Homo sapiens: one gene and its partners. The protein of the gene in region 2 interacts with the protein of the main gene of each other region in a biochemical or structural test. Each region holds a gene or a part of one and is shown on either strand. Other genes may lie near its edges.

Region 1 (7,000 bases), on a different chromosome or scaffold from region 2:
TTTGTCTGTTAAGCTGAGTAGTCTCTTCACATACTATTTAGGTCACAACTATTTATTGGGCCACGTGCTGTGGCACATGCCTATAATCCCAGCCCTTTGCTGAGGCGGGAGCATTGCTTGAGCCCAGGAGTTTGAAGCTGCACTGAGCTATGATTCCACCACTGCGCTTTAACCTGGGTGACAGAGTGAGACCCTGTCTCTTAAAAAAAAAAAAAAATTGAACATGGCCTAGATACCAAAAGATGCACTTCCAAGCCACTGGATTGTAAATCTGGTTGGGAAGATACTATGCAGAATACTGGGAGTTACGAAAAGCAGTGTGGGAGAGTAGAAAGAGCAGACATGTGCCTTGCCTATTTTTATTTGATCTGTGACCTTAAACAAATAACCTGAGTCCCAGTTTTCTCATTTGTGAAATGGGGATAATATTACATACTTCGCATGTGTGGCTATAAGACTTTTTAAAGATTTAATACACCGAAAATGCCTGGAACATAATAGATACCCAATAAATGGTAGCTGCTATTATTGTTAGTTAATACAGAGCATAGGAGTAAGACAAACACGTTAGAATCTATTATATTCCAGTCATATTGCCATTTCTTGACACATGCTTTTGACGTTACCTTCTACTTGGTGGCAAATTTTCATCTTTTAAGAGTGAATTTGATTTTTGGAATCACCAAAAAGCAGATTCAGACATAGGTATGAACATTTTCTTTTTTTTTTTTTTGAGGCAGAGTTTTGTTCTTGTTGCCCAGGCTGGAGTGCAATGGCACGATCTTGGATCACCGCAACCTCCGCCTCTTGGGTTCAAGCAATTCTCCTGCCTCAGCCTTCCGAGTAGCTGGGATTACAGGCATGCACCACCACATCTGGCTAATTTTTGTATTTTAATAGAGACTGGGTTTCTCCATGTTGATCAGGCTGGTCTCGAACTCCCGACCTCAGGTGATCCTCCCGCCTCGGCCTCCCAAAGTGCTGGGATTACAGGCGTGAGCCACCGTGCCTGGCATAGGTATGAATATTTTCATTGGTGATGGTGGTGGGGCGACCTCAGAAATGAAATGTGACCATCATATAATAGTGTTTACAGCTCTGACTGATAAACTTGCTTTGGAGGCAATTCCAAAAGAGGTGTTTGCAGTGTTTGAGCAATGAGACTGTTACTGGACATATGTAACTTCCCACAATGAATCTGCTGTATATATTTTGAAAATCGCTCATTGATATTAGAGTAAGTGACATAGCCTGTATATGCTGTGGGAGAGCAGAGGTGGAGGGACTCAGAAGAAAATGGATTGCTTTGGGAAAGCCTTGAGAAGATGGGACTTGGATTGAACCTTGAAGGGTAGGGAGGATTTGGTAGTAAGGGAAGGGGGGATATCAGAATATTGTGAGGGGAGTCACAAGAGCAAAGCATATAATTTGGTTTATTCAGCAAACATTGATTGAGCACCTGCTGTGTGCTGTACATTTGGCTGAACTTGGGAACCCAGAAGGAGGAACTGCTCTGACATCAAGGGGTACACAGTATACTGGGGAAAGAGCACACAGAATAAATAATTATAATAGTCTATTCAAGTGGTAGGTATGCACAAGCTGCAGTGGAAGTGCAGAGGAGGGCTCCTAACCTAGCCTAGCAATAAGAAGGGAAGAGGAGAAGCCAAGCTCAAGCTGATTGGTGTGGTAGGTTACTATGTAAGCAAAGGCTTTGAGACTTTATTTTTTTACTTATTTATGTATTTGAGATGGAGTCTCTCTCTGTTGCCCAGGCTGGAGTGCAGTGGCACAATCTGGGCTCACTGCAACCTCCACCTCCCAGGTTCAAGTGATTCTTGTGCCTCAGCCTCCTGAGGAGCTGGGACTACAGGCACACGCCACCACACCGGGCTAATTTTTTGTATTTTTAGTAGAGATGGAGTTTCATCATGTTGCCCAGGCTGGTCTCCAACTGCTGAGCTCAGGCAATCCTCCCGCCTCGGCCTCCCAAAGTGCTAGGATTATAGACGTGAGCCATCACACCCAGCCACAGTTTGAGACTTTATGATTTAGGCAGTGCAAAGCCTTTGAAAAAACTGGATCAAGTTTTTAGGGAGGTTGGTGAGTTGGTGTTATGCAAAATGAATTTGGAGGGGTAAGAGACAAAGCAAGGAGAACATTCGGAAGGCTTTTGCAGTAGAGAACAGGCTAAATATAAGGAAGACCTGAATTAGAATTGTGGAGGAAGGCATGGAAAAGCAGGAAAAAAATCAAGAACAGATAGGGTTCTGACTGACTGGTAGGAAATGTAAAAAGGCCATACATTTATTCTGAATGTTGGTATCTGGAAGAATGGTGATGCTGTTCAAGTAATAAGGACAAAGGGGAACCAGGCACTGTGAGCCTCTGTGGGGTGTGTTACTCTTTTAGCTCATGTGTTTCAAGTCATTCTACCCCTTGCCGTCTCCACATCCAAACCTAACTACTTTGGATTTTAATTGCAGCTCCTCCACCCCCACCACCTGTGATCCGAAATGGTGCCAGGGATGCTCCCCCTCCCCCACCACCATACCGAATGCATGGGTCAGAACCCCCGAGCCGAGGAAAGCCCCCACCTCCACCCTCAAGGACGCCAGCTGGGCCACCCCCTCCTCCTCCACCGCCCCTGAGGAATGGCCACAGAGATTCTATCACCACTGTCCGGTCTTTCTTGGGTGAGTAGCTAGCTATCTGTAGTCTCATGGTTCCTGCGGTGACTTCACCCACTCCAGTGCCATGGCTGCTAGATGGCCACCATAGAGTGGGAATGGCCACATGGGATCCTTTGTTCACAATAGTTCTCCTGCTGACTTCATCCTCAGAGGTATGGGCTGTGTTCATTGACTTCCTTATCTTGATATGAATTCTAAGCATGGATGCTTTGGAGTAGATTGAAGTAAAATCAGCAAGTGTTGTGCTAACTCTAAATCCACTCCAAAGATCACTTTTTGTAGCTAGCTTTTAGGTCAGAGACTCTGTATCTTCTTTAGGATTATTCAGACAGGACTTATGTATTCTCCTAGGAAGGAGTGTTCCTTTCTAGCTCTTCAAAAACAAAACACTTGATTGTTCTTGGAATTATTATTTTTTAATTATTTTTTATAGAGACTGGGTCTCTGTTGCCCAGGCCGCTGTCAAACTCCTGGTCTCAAGCAGTCCTCCAACCTTGGCCTCCCAAAGTGCTGGGATTACACATGTGAGCCATCACATCCAGCCTTTCCTTGGAATTCTTGAAAAAAAAAAAAAAAAAAAAAAAAAAAAAAAGAAAAGTCCCATGGCACATTGCCTGGAAAGAAAAAAGAAGAAAGAATGACAAAAAATATTAAAGAAAAAAGGATTGGGCGTGGTGGCTCATGCCTGTAATCCCAGCACTTTGGGAGGCCAAGGTGGGAGGATTGCTTTTAGCCCAGGAACTCAAGACCAGCCTGGGCAACATGGTGGAACTTCATCTCTCTAAAAAATACAAAAATTAGCTGGGTGTGGTGGCACACGCCTGTGTTTCCAGCTACTCAGGAGGATTGCCTAAGTCCAGGGAGGTTGAGGCTGCAGCAAACCATTGATCACATCACTGCACCCCAGCCTGGGCGACAGAGAGAGAATCTGTCTCAAAAAAAAAAAAAAAAAAAAAAAGTCGGCTGGGTGCAGTGGCTCACGCCTGTAATCGCAGTACTTTGGGAGGCCGAGGCAGGCGGATCACCTGAGGTCAGGAGTTTGAGACCAGCCTGGCTAACATAGTGAAACCCCATCTCTACTAAAAATATAAAAAATTAACTGGGCATGATGGCACGCAGCCATAATCCCAGCTACTCAGAAGGCTGAGGCAGGAGAATCTCTTGAACCCAGGAGGTGGAGGTTGCAGTGAGCCAAGATTGTGCCACTGCACTCCAGCCTGGGTGACAGAGCAAGACTCCGTCTCAAAAAAAAAAAAAAAAAAAAACAAAACCCAAAACATTACACACATTAATCCAAAGCCACTAACTAGCAGTGTTATTTTGAGGAAGTCACGTTACTTCTCTGGGCCTCACTTCCCTTATTTGTAAAATTAGGTTGACTAGATCAGAAGTGTATCAGATTAACTTTTCCAAGATTATAAATGTTGGGGGGGCTCTACCTAAGAGATTCTGATTCCTTGGTTCTGGGATGTAACCCTAAGTAAAGGTTGTCCATAGGCTATTGTTAGACCCGTCTGTTGAGGACCCTTGGAAGAAATCTCTGAAAGGTCCCTTGCAACCCTAACACTCTAGATTTTTTTTTTTTGAGATAGCGTCTTGCTTTGTCATCCAAGCTGGAGTGCAGTAGCGCAATCACGGCTCACCGCAGTCTCGACCTCCCAGGCTCAAGCAATCCTCCCATCCTTCAGCCTTCCAAGTAGCTGGGACCACAGGTGTGCACCACCATGCCTGGCTAATTTTGTATTTTTTTTGTAGAGATGAGGTTTTGCCATGTTGCCCAGACTGGTCTCAAACTCCTGGGCTCAAGCTACCCACCCACCTTGGCCTCCCAAAGTGCTGGGATTACAGGCATGAGCCACCATGCCCAGCTTCTAGATTCTTTAATGGTTGCTGTCCTTACCTACCCACTGTCCTCCATGTTCTAGTCTATTCCTATTAGGTATGCCAGGGTTTTTGCTTTAAAGATATATCCTTATTGTAGAAACCTTTGGGATGTGATCAAGCCGCACTTACAGAAAATTTGAGCTTTCTGATGGAGGGGCTGTAGAAAGTAGTAGTAGAAGCCATGAGATGGCTGTCCCAACTATGTAAGTGAAGGTAACATGGACTGAAAGGGAATCATCTGGTCAAATCTCTCACTAGTCATAGACAGATATTCCCATTTTAAATTAATTCCTACCAATTTCTGGATTTAGATCAGTTGTTTTCCCGTGGTGACAGTCTGTAAGATGTTATTAAAACCCAGAATTGGCTGGGCCTGGTGGCTTACGCCAGTAATCCCAGCGCTTTGGGAGGCCGAGGCAGGTGGATCACCTGAGGTCAGGAGTTCAAGACCAGCCTGGCCAACATGGTGAAACCCTATCTCTACTAAAAATACAAAAATTAGCCAGGTGTGGTGGTGCCTGCCTGTAATCTCAGGGACGCTGGGGCAGGAGAATCGCTTGAACTTGGGAGGTGGAGGTTGCAGTGAGCCAAGATCATGCCACCGCACCCCAGTCTGGGCAACAGAGTGAGACTCCGTCTCAAAAAAAAAAAAAAAAAAAAAAAGAATTATATTTCTTTCTGCTACCATGCAAACAACTGAGCTCCTTTCCTGTTCTGTGCCTGACTTGGTGGAAAGGTTTAAAGAATCAGCTCAGGCTAGGCGTGGTTCACACCTGTAATCCCAGCACTTTGGGAGGCCAGGTGGGGAGATTGCCTGAGCACAGGAGTTTGAGACTAGCCTGGCCAAGATGGTGAAACCCCGTCTCTACTAAAAATACAGAAAACTAGCCGGGTGAGGTGGTGGGCACCACTGCACTCCAGCCTGGGTGACAGAGCGAGACTGTCAAAAAATAAATAAATAAAGAATGGGCTCAAAGACGCACTACTTAGTACAGAGAGGTTTTGAATACATGCTCTGTGCATGCAAGGCACGTGGGGTGATGCTGCTGCTGTTCTCAGGGTGGTTGGTTTGGTGGGGCAGTAGGTCCTCACAGTACCTCAGAATGCCTGAGAGATTAGTAAGTGGGGAGGGTCGAAGCGATCAGAGGCCTGTGGGAGCACAAGCAAGGATGATAGGAATTAATGTTCTATTCTTTTCGCAGATGATTTTGAGTCAAAGTATTCCTTCCATCCAGTAGAAGACTTTCCTGCTCCAGAAGAATATAAACACTTTCAGAGGATATATCCCAGCAAAACAAACCGAGGTGAGAATAATAATAAGAAGGTTTTTCCATAATTGCATAGAATGTAGAATCTGTGCATTTTCTTAGGTTAAAATTTGCTTCTCGCTGGGCACAGTGGCTCATACCTATAATCCCAGCACTTTGGGAGGCCAAGGTGGGTGGATCACGAGGTCAGGAATTCGAGACCAGCCTGACCAACATAATGAAACCCTGTCTCTACTAAAAATACAAAATTAGGCTGGGCGCGGTGGCTTATGCCTATAATCCCAGCATTTTGGGAGGCTGAGGTGGGCGGATCATGAGGTCGGGAGATCAAGACCATCCTAGCTAACACGGTGAAACCCCGTCTCTACTAAAAATACAAAAGATTAGCTGGGCGTGGTGGCACACACCTGTAGTCCCAGCTACTCGGGAGGCTGAGGCAGGAGAACTGTTTAAACCCAGGAGGCGGAGGTTGCAGTGAGCCAAGATCACGCTACTGTACTCCAGCCTGGGTGACAGAGGGAGACTCCGTCTCAAAAAAAAAGAAAAAAAATTGCTTCTCATCATCTTCGTTGTCCTTTTTTTTTTTTTTTTTTTGAGATAGGGTCTCCCTATCGTCACCCAGGCTGGAGTGCAGTGGTGCCATCTCGGCTCACCCCAAACCTCTGCCTCCCAGGTTCAAGTGATTCTCCTGCTTAAGCCTCCCAAGTATCTAGGATTATAGGCGTGTGCCACCATGCCGGATTATTTTTGTAATTTTAGTAGAGACTGGGTTTTGCCTGGTTGGCCAGGCTGGTCTGAAACTCCTGACCTCAGGTGATCCGCCCGCCTCGGCCTCCCAAAGTGCTGGGATTACAGGCGTGAGCCACCTTGCCTGGCCACTCATCTTCATTTTCTTAGGCAAAACAATAATAACACGTAGTCCCCAGATTTTAAAGGTTAGCTTAAAGAGCCTGTCTCTCATTTTAGGAATGTGTGGGTTGTTCAGATTCTGGTGGGTGACCTGTATGTGTGTGGTCTTTATTTTGTTTTTTTTCAGCTGCCCGTGGAGCCCCACCTCTGCCACCCATTCTCAGGTGAAGCCTGGCTTGGTCCCGTTCCTCAGGAAAAGGATGGACCTTCTCTTCTTCTCAGATGGTCCCTTCCATTCCCCTGAAA
Region 2 (6,286 bases):
GTGTTGGTTAAATAAATGTTTTTGTATTTTTGTTTTCTTACCTTTCTGTTATTTTAGTCTGTGTTTCTTCACATTGGCAGTAGTGTGGCTTAACTTTTAATGCCATTATCACCAATGAAGCATATCTTTTTGCTGGTTGGTGAGCCAGCCAGACCTGTTATGCCTTCTATTATACTGTCTTCTTCTTAAAAATTGTTTTGAGAAGTCATAATTGTATATACTTACGGGGTACAGTTGCTGTTTTGATATAGGTAGATAATATGGAATGATTAAACCAAAGCTGTTTAACATATTCATCACTTTGTTTGCTTATAATTTTTTGTGGTGAGACACTTGGAATTTACTCTCAGTTATTTTGAATGTAGAATACATTATTGGCTTTAGTTAACCCTGGTGTGCAGTAGGTCTCAAAACTTATTTCTGCTGTCTCTGAAACTTCATTATCTTTGACAAGTAACTCCTCATTCTCTCCCTTGTCCTGTCTCCTACCCCCTAGACTTTGGTGACCATCTACTCTCTATTTCTATGAGTTCAACTTTTTTGGATTCCACAAATGTGAGACTATGCAGTATTTGTGTTTCTGTGCTTGACTTATTTCACTTATGTTGTCCTCTAGGTTTATCCATGCCATAAATGAATAGAATTTTCCTCTTTTTTTAAGGCTGAGTGGTACTCCATTGTGTATATTTATTACATTTTCTTTATCCATGTATCTGTTGATAGACACTTAGGTTGATTCCATATCTTGGCTATTGTGAATAATGCTGCAGTGGACATGGAAGTGCAAATGGACATTCAGATAAGTCTCTTTGGTGATATATATATAATTTTTTCTCTTCAGGTACGTTCTTCAGATGTGTCATGGTCTGATACTCGTAGGACCCTCCGAAAAGATCACCGCTGGGAATCTGGATCCTTATTGGAAAGAGAGGAGAAAGAGAAGCTTTTTAATGAACACATTGAAGCACTTACCAAAAAAAAGAGAGAGCACTTTAGGCAACTTCTGGATGAAACTTCTGCAGTAAGAATCTCTTATTTTTCTCATTTTAATCTGGATGAATCTTGTTAGTAATTTCTTAAAGCAAAGCATTGATATGATTTTTAGTGTCATGGTCTTTAGATTCATTACTGGAATGCATCTTATGACAATTCTCTGATTTTAAAAAATTATGGTATTCTTATTTATTTAGAAATGCCTATTCTTTGCAGTTTTCACATTCATAACTGCTCCCATAGTAATTCAAAATGTCCTTAGCCATGTGGTCAGTGATCCCTCCTAATAATAGATTTAGCAAATTTCTTCTTTTGATCCATTTTCAATTTGGTACTATGGCCTCTTGTTCGGCAGTTTGTACGCTTTGTTATCCAGGTTTTGTTCCTTTTTATTTGCTCTCTTTTTGGTGATGGTTTCTTCAGAAGTTATGATGTTTGCCCATGTAAATACAGGGTTTGCAGGTGATTGTCTTAGGCCACCTTGAAAGTATGGCCATGAAAATAACTCTTGTGGCAAGCCAACAAAAAGAAATTGCATTAACGCTGCTTCCCTGTCCCTAACTAGTCCAGTTACGCTTGGGCATTACAAGAGATCGCAGGTCAGTGTGTAATATTATGTACCTATGTGCTGCAGTTTGACTCCCTAAGTAAAAGTGAGTTGTATTTATGTTTTTTATTCATGTCTTTTCAAAGATTACCTTAACATCCACGTGGAAAGAAGTAAAAAAAATCATTAAGGAAGATCCTCGATGTATTAAGTTCTCCTCCAGTGACAGGGTAAGAGGATTTTGTGTCGAGATTTACTGTCAGTCTATAAATACTTAAATCGGGGCCTAACAGCACTACTATCTTAACCAAAATGAAGTTGATTGTTTTAAGTGAATTACTTTTAAGTGTATGAGAAGTAAATCTGAATTTTAAGTTTATGTATTGTTTCTTGCATGATAAATTAGCAAGACAGCACAATAGAAAGTTTAAAATTTTAGTACTTGGGGTGAAGCTTGTATTTTAGGATCTTAGAAATTTAATGAAGCTGCAGTTTTATTTTAGTCAGGTACCACTAGACAGACATATTTAGGCTGGCAATTGGTACCAAACTATCAAAGCACTTGACTCTTAAGCCAAACAGAGCCCTGTAATGAGATCGCTAGTTCTCATATGCTTCAAGGTCTGAAACAGTGAATGATGTCAAGAAAAGTGTTGTTTACTACAGTCCATTTTATCCCTAGGCCTTTTATTTGTTTTCTTTTACATCATTCCCCTTTCCTGGTTGGTTTCTGTAGGTCTGGGCATCTTTTATAAAAACTCATAAATCTAATATTCTTCCCCCTCAAAGTCTATTGGATTGTAGATGTTTGGACCATAAAATATGCATGACTGGGAAAGAGGGGTAGACCCAGTCTCAGTTTCTAACTTTTCTGACTGTTTAGAATTGATAATAAAGTCTTTTTTAAGTCCAAAGAGTTTATTCATCTTATTACTTTTGGCTTGCCAGAAAGCTAAATGCTCATTACTGTGTAAGTTAAGTATTGAGTGTTAACCTACAGTTGCTGTATCCACAAATTACTCTTTTTGTTCTTGAAGTTAAAAATACAGTGTGCAGGAAGTGAACACTTAATCCTTAATATCCTTATTTTTAAGTGTCCACCTCATGAGGTTGTTGTGAAGATTGAAGTAGATGATCCTCATAAAATGCTCAGCAGTGTAGCACATAGCAAGTTCTCAAGTTTTAGCCACTACTAATTTATGATTCCTCATTCTTTCTATTTGCCGCAAAAATGAGCCTTGCAAATTGTGATTTAATGAATTTTATATATGAACAAAATGTACCCTGTTGCCTTTTTCTTTTGAATTTTAAATTTTATTATGTGACTTACACATTACTGTTTAATAAATAATTGATGTTTATTTTGGAATTAGTGGGTTTTATTTCCATAATCTCAACTTTTTTTTTTTTATTAACAGAAAAAACAAAGAGAATTTGAAGAATATATCAGAGACAAATATATCACAGCCAAAGCTGACTTCAGGACGCTTTTGAAAGAGACCAAATTTATAACATATAGGTGTGTGCAATGAAATGTTTCATATTGGCAGTCATTCTCTTTACTAGTCTTTACTCTAATGGTCAGAGCATTCTTTGCATTCACACACATGTTGACATTATTAATTTTTAGGGATAAGAAGATACCAACTTCTGTCCAAAGTCAAATACAGCCCATATCTACCATACTTTTTTTTTTTTTTAAAGAAAGGGCCCAGATGTCAATTCTTATTTTGTGTTACCCACCCATCCAGTTTTGAATACATACCTTTTTTTTTTTTTTACTTCACCGCTTTTTTTAGGAATACCCTCAACTATATAAGAATTGTATTTCATGAAGAGACTTTTAAAATAATCTTTCACTATCAGTTATCTTTGCCTCCTCTGAAGACTATTCAGTGTGGTTAGATCATTCTAAAGCATGAAATCATCTATTTAAGCTCAGCATAAACATTTTTTTTTCCCTCAGAGGAAAGCATTTTGCTGGGTACATTTAAATAAAAATTGTAAATTATGAAATCAGAGCCTTTAAACAAGATTTCTCTGTAGCAAACCCAACAGTTCTTCACCCCTAACAATTTATCATCAGGAAAACAATTTCGCATTGCTTACCAGTCAGTATGCAGGAAACCATTTTTGTTTCATGCTCCAGCTTTTCTTCTTTAAGAGAGAAATTTGAAACATCTTAATAAAGGGTATGTGCACGGGAGGCTAGATAGTGCTGAGGGTGTGGTTTTTAGATATTTTGTCATTTGGATTTTTTGGTCAGGATCCTTAATGTTTTGCATCAGCTTGGGCTTTTAAATTAGATGTGAAGTAAGACTTCTTTCTACATTTTTATAGTTAATTTAGTGAAAGATGTGAAAGTGAAAGCTTGTGAAAGATGCTGGGATTGGCAGCCCCGCAGACTGAAGTCCTCTGTTCATCCACAGAACAGGTACAGCACGGGCAAGATTTACCCACCCACCCTCAGCCCTGATCTGGAGGGACCACCACTAGGGGTGGGAGGGTAATTCAGCTTCTGAGGCCCTTTCACTCCTTGGAGTCTTTGCTGAGGCGACTTACAAAGGTGACCACTGCCGTGAAATTTTTCTTAAAAAAAAAAAAAAAAAAAAAAATGGAAACACAATTAGGAACTAGATGGACATTTCCAGCTCATTTCTGAAAGACCTGTGAACAGCAGTCAGTAATTCTTGGACTTCTTTTTCTTATTTCAGATCCAAAAAATTAATCCAAGAATCAGATCAGCACCTGAAAGATGTAGAAAAAATTTTACAGAATGACAAACGGTATCTAGTACTGGACTGTGTGCCAGAGGAGAGGCGTAAACTGATTGTGGCATATGTTGATGACCTGGATCGCCGGGGTCCACCCCCACCTCCCACAGCATCGGAGCCCACGAGACGATCAACAAAATAATTCTAAATACTCTTCCATAGGGGCATCTATTCAAAATGCTTGCATGAGCCAATTTTCAGGTTTTTACATATATGTGCATTAGTCAACCTATTGCGAAACCATCTGACAAACAGAAGGAGAAGCATTTGTGAACAGTTTCTGAACAGAACACTTTGGAAATATTTATGCTTTTCTTTGTGTGGCATGACTGACATACATACTCAAATATAGGCTGTCTCTAGTAAATCTTAAAATCTTGAAGCTAAAATTCATCCTTTTATGAGGTGTGGAAGTCAGTGACTTGGTGACGTTCTTCCTAGCAGTGTTAATACATGCAAGAAGTAAGAGCATTTGTGGCTTGAACTTGCCAGATGCAAATACCACAGACTCCAAGAAAACCCGAGTTGGGGTTTGTTTTGTTTTGATTTTTTTTTTTTAAAGCGGGTAAAAGAGAAAACACTGAAAATTGAATTCTTATCTTCCAGAGGCTACAATTATTATAATGGACAATACTTTTACCTTTGTCTCTAAAGATCAGATTAGTTTTATTTGTTCACTTACGTGCTTTGATTATCCCCTCTGAATTATAGACCGAGTCTTGTTGTTTAGCCTAAGAGAAGATTTATGTAGTAATTTCTTCTCAGGTATGGAACCACGGTCATAACTAACATGTTGGCCAGAATAGAACCACTGGTTAAACATATTTTATTCACCATTAAGTGATCTTTATCAATATTCTGGATTAGACAACAAATTACCTTTCTGGGTGTTTCTTGTAAACTATACTCCTGTTTGAATGTTAAACTTTGTTGCTAAAGTTTAATTTTAAGATGTTTGAATGTTCAGTTTATGTATTTGAACTACAATAAACCAACCCTTTTTATATATCTGTATTGTATATGATTATTGTTACTTAATTTTTAAGAGCTTATTTTAACCTGTTTTTAAAAGCAGCAAATAGAATTTCCCACAAAGTAAGTTGACTCTAAATCTTAAGTATTACCTAGTTTTTAAAGGTTTGAATATAATAATGCAGTATTTGCAGTATAAAAAGGAAGGAATTTGTAGAGAATCATTTTGGTGCTCAAGTCTCTTAGCAGTGCCTTATTGCCTCATAGCAAGAAGATGCTGGGGTTTTTTTTGTTTTTGTCCTTTGTATTAATGTATGATGGTTTGCGCCTTTTTGGCATTCTTTCAACATGTCGTGTACATCACACCATGAATCAGTTCCTAATTGATATATCTAGCTTTACCTCCCGAGTTAAAAAAAAATCTTTTTATTTTATGCCTTCATAGGTTGCTCGTTTCAGAGTGCCACATAAATAAAATGTTTAACAAAATATATATGTTAATAGAATAATTTATTTTCCATTATCTCATACCGACTATGATTGTAACAAATCCTAGAAAGAAGGAATACCAACAGATCTGTATTTGTATGTTGTGTGCATACAGTCACAGACACACACATTCACATCCATGTTATATAGTTCATAGCTTAAATCTATTAAGTGCCATGGAAATTTTGTGAACTCTTTATGTAGGAACCTGGCATTGATCAGACTAAGGTCTTCAGCTGTAAAGTTGATAAACAGGATATGTTTTTTCTTTTTATGCGTACAAAGGATCTTACTCTGTCTCCTAGGCTGGGGTGCAGTGGTGCCATCATAGCTCACTGTAACTTTGAACTCCTGGTTTCAGTGATCCTTCTGAGTAGCTGAGACTGCAGGCATGCATTACCATGTCTGGCTTTTTTTTTTTTCTTTTTAAAATTTTTTTGGAAATGGTTTCACTCTGTTGCCCAGGCTGGCCTCAAACTCCTAGCCTCAAGCCATTCTCCCACCTCGGCCA
Region 3 (7,000 bases), on a different chromosome or scaffold from region 2:
TAAAACTCTTTCTTACTGGAATATCCTTTACAGAAGGTTGAGATAGTCATCTGAGCCTTTTTAAAAGAAAAAACTGCAGGTGAAAAAGGAGTTAGTTGATGTGAAAGTTTTAGTGAAATTCTGGGTTGTATAAATAAGTTGCTAGGAATTGGCAAGGTAGTGAAGTGGTGACTCACACAGGTAATGTAATTGTTAGATTTTTTAGCAAATCAGGAATATGTCAATATAAGTACAATGTTGAATTCAAACAATCTGTTGAATTAAATTCTGTTGATTAGAATAACTCTAATTTAAGAAAAATTCCAAACTGTAGATTTATTTTTCTCTGATCAGTAAAAAGAAAATGAGTTCCAGCTTGACTTTAGCTGTTCAAGTGAGAAGTCTGAGGAAGTGCATGTTAATGAGCCAGTGACCCATAGGTAGCTGGGTTAAAGACACTTTGGATTTGGATAATCCGGGAAGCAATTAATCCCTAATTGTTGAACAGGCAGTCCTGGGTAAAGAGGACCTAAAATGCTGCACTATTAACAGCATTAGACGGCCAGGTTTGTACTTCATAGTTTTAGGCTGTCTTCTTCACAAGTTTTAGAAAAAGAATTTAGGAGCTAGAGCCCTGGTGCAGGATCAACAGCAGCTCATACTCCTATTTTAAAATAATTTGGTCGTGGCCTCCCTTCAGTTTTAATGTGGCACTGGTAAATCTACCTGGTTCTGGCATGCTTCACTTTGATTTCCTGCTATCCTCTACTGCTTGCCTCTAAATCAAGGTAAAGAGCAGAGCAGGTATGTATTAATGTCACATTGTCTTGATTATTTTAAATACTTAAAATATACATGTTAAACCTTGGTATTAGTTTCACAGGCAGTTTACTTTTCAGTACATAATTTAACAGGAGTGACTTGGTGGGAGTGGGGCTTTAAACTGAAAATTGGAACAACAGCATGATGTGGAGAAAAGTTGTGCAGCATTAAGAAGTACATGCAAAAATTAAGTAACCAAGTTTTGTCTACATAGCAGATATGTTTACATTGGATGTCAAAAGTAACACAGTATTTGATATAATTACAGATAATTGTGATCTACATTTTAAAATATCAAGAGATCGTCTCAGTGCTTCTTCCCTTACAATGGAGAGTTTTGCTTTTCTTTGGGCTGGAGGAAGAGCATCCTATGGTGTGTCAAAAGGCAAAGTGTGTTTTGAGATGAAGGTAAATGCAATTTTATGATTTGTTTGTTTGTTTGTGGAGACAGTCTCACTCTGTTCCCTAGGCTGGATTGCCGTGGTGCGACCTAGGCTCACTGCAACCTCCGCGTCCTGGGTTCAAGCGATTCTCCTTGCTTCAGTCTCTCAAGTAGCTCGGACTAGAGGCACACACTACCACACCTGGCTAATTTTTGTATTTTTAATAGAGATGGGGTTTCACCACGTAGGCCAGGCTGGTCGCCAACTCTTGACCTCAGGTGATCCACTGTCTCGGCGTCCCAAAGTGCTGGGATTACAGGCATGAGCCACTGTGCCCAGCCTTTTTTTTTCCTTTTTAAAATAGTGACAAGGTCTCACCATGTTGCCCAGGCTGGTCTTGAACTCCTAAGCTCAAGTGATCTGCCCGCCTGAGCCTCTCAGAATGCTGGAATTACAGGTGCTTCATACTGCTAAGTTATCAAAGGTACTTATTTTTGAAGCTTCCTGTAAATTAAAAGAGGAGCTTGGAACCTTCATTTTGTTGTGACAGTTAATCACGGTTGTTATGTTAGAACTTGCCATGCAGAGCTAGGCGATTTTTTATTTAGGGTACTTCATTTTTATCAAGCATTTGAAAGGGCCACCAAAGAGTTAAAAATAAAATTTGGTTACATTACTGCTTTTGTTGGTGAGAAAAACATTAATTGTATCCTTTAATTGGCTTTAAGTTAAAGACTGACAACATGAACTTTAAAAATATTAAGTATTCTTTTAAATATGGGTCAAATAAGTATTTAACTCTTTAAATTTCAAGTTATAAGCACATCAGTTTAAAGTTCTTACAAATATTGGGGGTGGGCTAGAGTGTGCCTTCTTTGTATTTATAGCTAGAGGAAGATTAGCCCGTGGCGCAATGAAATATGCGAGAGTTAAGGGGTTACCTCCTTGGTGTATTATTTTAATTATTTAATGATTTGACTTTCAGGTTACAGAGAAGATCCCAGTAAGGCATTTATATACAAAAGATATTGACATACATGAAGTTCGTATTGGCTGGTCACTAACTACAAGTGGAATGTTACTTGGTAAAGCTTCTTTTTGACTGATGTGGGCTCATGAATGTTCAGGAGGGTCTGATTTCAGTGTTTTTTAACTAGAGGGCATTCTAAGCCTTTTGTCTGTTTTTATCTATTCTGTTAATACTTCAGACAGGTAATATTAGCACATAGTAGGCACAGGCTACATTTTAGTTTTTGTTCCTTTATTAGAAGTTTATGACCAATGGTTGAAATAAAATCTTACCCGTGATATGCAAATCGTCAACTAATTTGGTCTCTGCGTATATATCCCTCCTAACTTCCATCAATTCTGGTACAGAGATAGAAAAGTAATAGTGTCAGTGACAGGTGATTAGGTTATATGCTTATTTCTCTTGTAGCCTACATCTTAAGTAGTAAAATAGATGAGTCTTTGGACTATTTTAAACATCTACTTCATGAAGATTAATTATTTTCTTAGGTGAAGAAGAATTTTCTTATGGGTATTCTCTAAAAGGAATAAAAACATGCAACTGTGAGACTGAAGATTATGGAGAAAAGTTTGATGAAAATGATGTGATTACATGTTTTGCTGTAAGTTAAAGCTAACTTTCTATGTATAAATGGCAAAGTTAGTAGCTATATCTAGGAACTTTAAAGAAGCTTTACTGAGGTCAGTTTTCAATATGAGCAACAAAATACACCAGTCCCTGGATTAGTGTAAAGACTTCATTCAGCAGTTGAATTGGGAAAACACAGGACATTTTTGAGGAACTCACTAATTCATTTTGACTGAAAACAGTGAACATGAAATTGACCTAGAAAATTCAGTCTAGCTTCTAGGTCAGTATTGTTTCTGGTTCTGGAGATACGTGCTTCATGGTTTACAACCATCAGATTTCTTAACTGTGTAGCCCTTAAAGGCCACCTAATAGTTCTTTAACCTGTAGCTTCCACAGGATAAGCTTTGCTCCTAATTTTAATTCTTAGTTTTTTAGAAAGTTTAAGGAAGCAGATTTTAACTGTTGAATTTTTTTCTGTGTAACAGAACTTTGAAAGTGATGAAGTAGAACTCTCGTATGCTAAGAATGGACAAGATCTTGGCGTTGCCTTCAAAATCAGTAAGGAAGTTCTTGCTGGACGGCCACTGTTCCCGCATGTTCTCTGCCACAACTGTGCAGTTGAATTTAATTTTGGTCAGAAGGAAAAGCCATATTTTCCAATACCTGAAGAGTATACTTTCATCCAGAACGTCCCCTTAGAGGATCGAGTTAGAGGACCAAAGGGGCCTGAAGAGAAGAAAGATTGTGAAGTAAGGGATTTTTTTTTTTTTAACTGTGGCATTTGAATATTGCTTGCCTGGCACAAAATGACATTTAGAAGAACTAGATGATTAGTCTGTTTCATTTACTTTGTGCTGTGCATATTGCTCTTAAGTAATTGTTTCCCCCTTATGTTGACTGTTAATCTTTCCATAAACAAATTTTTGTCCGTTAGTGTAAGGGCTATGAAAACTTAGATATTTAAATTGGCCTTAACAATATTTAAAGAATTATTAGGTGGTGTCTACTGACAGTGAAATGACATTTCTTTTCTTTTCACTAGGTTGTGATGATGATTGGCTTGCCAGGAGCTGGAAAAACTACCTGGGTTACTAAACATGCAGCAGAAAATCCAGGGAAATATAACATTCTTGGCACAAATACTATTATGGATAAGATGATGGTAAGTAAAATGTTTAGGGCCTGATCTCAGTGTTTAAAATAGACTGGGAGAGGCTGGGCATGGTGGTTCACGCCTGTAATCTCAGCATTTTGAGAGGCTGAGGTGGATGGATCACCTGAGGTCAGGAGTTTGAGACCCACCTGGCCAACATGGCGAAGCCCCGTTCCTACTAAAAATTTAAAAATTAGCTGGGTGTGGTAGTGGGTTCCTGTAATCCCAGCTGCTCGGGAGGTTGAGGCAGGGACAATTACTTGAACCTGGGAGGCAGAGGTTGCAGTGAGTTGAGATCGTGCCATTGTACTCCAGTCTGGGCGACAGAGCAACACTCCGTCTCAGAAAAAAAAAAAAAAGAAAAGAAAAATTATAGACCGGGAGGTATTCTAGGTAAACTTTTTGTCTTTGTCTCTATCCATTTTGTTAGTATCTTAAAGAGATGGGAGGAAAGGCAAGATTAAGTTGGTTCTTTCAACTCTGAGGGTAAACTGCCTTCCACTGGCTAGGCTTCTGTTTTTTTCCGTAGTGTTTTTGAGCTCTTAACATCTAGCAGCTAAAAAGAATTGAGTAAGTGTAAGGTCTTGTTACATAGTTTAAGTGACCCTGTTTTTGTAGCAATAATGGACAAAGGTAATATTTAAATTATAAAATGTTGCCTGCTTTACATATAGATATGAGTTGAATTTTAAAAAGCATAACTTATTAAAATTCACAAGTTCAAGGGGAAATTTTAACTTTTGAATATAGGTGGCAGGTTTTAAGAAGCAAATGGCAGATACTGGAAAACTGAACACACTGTTGCAGAGAGCCCCCCAGTGTCTTGGGAAATTTATTGAGATTGCTGCCCGAAAGAAGCGAAATTTTATTCTGGATCAGGTACGCTGTAGCTTTGAAATTGAAAAATATTAACTGATAATTTAGATAGATTGGTGTAGAATTAATGTTTAGGGTTGTAAACATAAATTTCTTTTTTTAAAGACAAATGTGTCTGCTGCTGCCCAGAGGAGAAAAATGTGCCTGTTTGCAGGCTTCCAGCGAAAAGCTGTTGTAGTTTGCCCAAAAGATGAAGACTATAAGCAAAGAACACAGAAGAAAGCAGAAGTAGAGGGGAAAGACCTACCAGAACATGCGGTCCTCAAAATGAAAGGCATGGAATTTTAATTCTGTTACTGTGTGAAATCTTCTTTTTAAAAGAATGTTTTTCCTACATATTCTGCTTGTGTAACTATGTTAAATCTATTAGGACTTAGGCCTCCTGAAAGTTAACATTTTTTCCAGCAATACTGCTTCAGGAATTAAAATTGCAGTTGTTACATATGCATATATGTTTGGTCTGTTTTTATTTTTAGGAAAATATGTTACTAAACCTCAAGAATTGTCAGCTTTAGGATTGTGAGGATTCGTGGTGGGTTTCTAAATTAATAATATGACTTTGTTTCCTGCAGGAAACTTTACCCTCCCAGAGGTAGCTGAGTGCTTTGATGAAATAACCTATGTTGAACTTCAGAAGGAAGAAGCCCAAAAACTCTTGGAGCAATATAAGGAAGAAAGCAAAAAGGCTCTTCCACCAGAAAAGAAACAGAACACTGGCTCAAAGAAAAGCAATAAAAATAAGAGTGGCAAGAACCAGTTTAACAGAGGTGGTGGCCATAGAGGACGTGGAGGATTCAATATGCGTGGTGGAAATTTCAGAGGAGGAGGCAAGTTAATTTTGAGTGTTCTGTATTTAGTTCAGGATCGAAACAAGTGATAATTTTATAGTTTGGATGTAGCTGAAGTTTCTTCCTCATTAATGGTATACTGTCACAGTAACTAAAGTATTCATGTGATTTGATATTAAATACACCTAGGTTATGTTAATGGTTAGAATTAAACATTTCTTTTGTCTTTAAACAATTATTTTTGGAGAAAAAGGAACAATCTAGAGGAATCCTAAGTCTTCTGTATAAGTAGGGTACAATATACAATGAAACTAAAACAGCTCTTGTCTTTTAGCCCCTGGGAATCGTGGCGGATATAATAGGAGGGGCAACATGCCACAGAGAGGTGGTGGCGGTGGAGGAAGTGGTGGAATCGGCTATCCATACCCTCGTGCCCCTGTTTTTCCTGGCCGTGGTAGTTACTCAAACAGAGGGAACTACAACAGAGGTGGAATGCCCAACAGAGGGAACTACAACCAGGTAATGATTCAAGATCCCTGGAAGCATGATTGATAACTGTAGCTTAGTCTGGAAAGGTGTGAGCTTTATGTTGGGGTGTCTTAGTAATCCGTAAGGAACATGATAGGCATTGACATAAGGAAAATTGAACTAGTAATGGTGAAATGAGTCTACTTACTTTTGAGTTTTTTCAGGTGTACTAAACAAGTCAGATGCATTTCTCATAATGAATAAAAAATTAAAACATAAGAAACCAGCAGAGGGTATCCAGAATTTGTGTATTGCTTGCTACCTAAGATTAGGGGCTAGCAACCTGTCCATTTCTGCTCCTCTCTCTCACCCCCACAAACCTAACAAGCAATTGGGCTCAGAGCTCTTAGAGAGTATTTCCTTTTTGTAGAACTTCAGAGGACGAGGAAACAATCGTGGCTACAAAAATCAATCTCAGGGCTACAACCAGTGGCAGCAGGGTGTAAGTAATTTCTTATGTGCTTTATGTACATTAATTGTATTTTGAGTTCCTAAGATTTATCAGTCTTGAAAAAGATCTTGTTCAGGGATTGAAGTGTTTATAAGTGTTAATAGGGTAAAGTGTGAATCGTCTTGCAGTAGTAGCCATAATCTACCTTTTGAAGGCAAAATAGGTTGAAGATTGCTATAAGTTAAATTTTTTTAATAAAGTAATATTATTTAATATATACAGTTCTTTTACTGCTAGCTTTAATTGTGTAAACTAACAAAGTCATGATGTTTCGTTTTGTAATGTGTATTGATAATTATGGGATATTAAAACTAAATCTGGTTTGGTAGAAATCAGAGGTATGACAGGTATAAATTTGTTTCCAGCAAATTACTCTGAATTAGATTCATTGTCATTTCCTAAAAACAGTTTGAGTGGCTT

The links.
Region 1: the proteins of TCERG1 (region 2) and WIPF2 form a complex in vitro, tested with the Homo sapiens proteins (one study listed by BioGRID).
Region 3: the proteins of TCERG1 (region 2) and HNRNPU form a complex in vitro, tested with the Homo sapiens proteins (one study listed by BioGRID).

The regions. Positions count from the first base shown.
Region 1 is NC_000017.11:40,271,304-40,278,303, forward strand, and holds part of WIPF2 (WAS/WASL-interacting protein family member 2), read left to right. Parts: intron 1-2,486; coding exon 2,487-2,696; intron 2,697-5,779; coding exon 5,780-5,881; intron 5,882-6,881; coding exon 6,882-6,922; 3' UTR 6,923-7,000. UniProt on the Homo sapiens protein: Plays an active role in the formation of cell surface protrusions downstream of activated PDGFB receptors. Plays an important role in actin-microspike formation through cooperation with WASL.
Region 2 is NC_000005.10:146,506,187-146,512,472, forward strand, and holds the end of TCERG1 (transcription elongation regulator 1), read left to right. Parts: intron 1-841; coding exon 842-1,021; intron 1,022-1,446; coding exon of another isoform or gene 1,447-1,554; exon of another isoform or gene 1,555-1,592; intron 1,593-1,686; coding exon 1,687-1,770; intron 1,771-2,958; coding exon 2,959-3,059; intron 3,060-3,880; exon of another isoform or gene 3,881-3,974; intron 3,975-4,254; coding exon 4,255-4,456; 3' UTR 4,457-5,775; downstream 5,776-6,286. UniProt on the Homo sapiens protein: Transcription factor that binds RNA polymerase II and inhibits the elongation of transcripts from target promoters. Regulates transcription elongation in a TATA box-dependent manner.
Region 3 is NC_000001.11:244,854,544-244,861,543, reverse strand, and holds part of HNRNPU (heterogeneous nuclear ribonucleoprotein U), read left to right. Parts: intron 1-1,069; coding exon 1,070-1,209; intron 1,210-2,169; coding exon 2,170-2,269; intron 2,270-2,702; coding exon 2,703-2,815; intron 2,816-3,269; coding exon 3,270-3,533; intron 3,534-3,826; coding exon 3,827-3,946; intron 3,947-4,687; coding exon 4,688-4,816; intron 4,817-4,918; coding exon 4,919-5,087; intron 5,088-5,385; coding exon 5,386-5,640; intron 5,641-5,935; coding exon 5,936-6,120; intron 6,121-6,499; coding exon 6,500-6,571; intron 6,572-7,000. UniProt on the Homo sapiens protein: DNA- and RNA-binding protein involved in several cellular processes such as nuclear chromatin organization, telomere-length regulation, transcription, mRNA alternative splicing and stability, Xist-mediated transcriptional silencing and mitotic cell progression.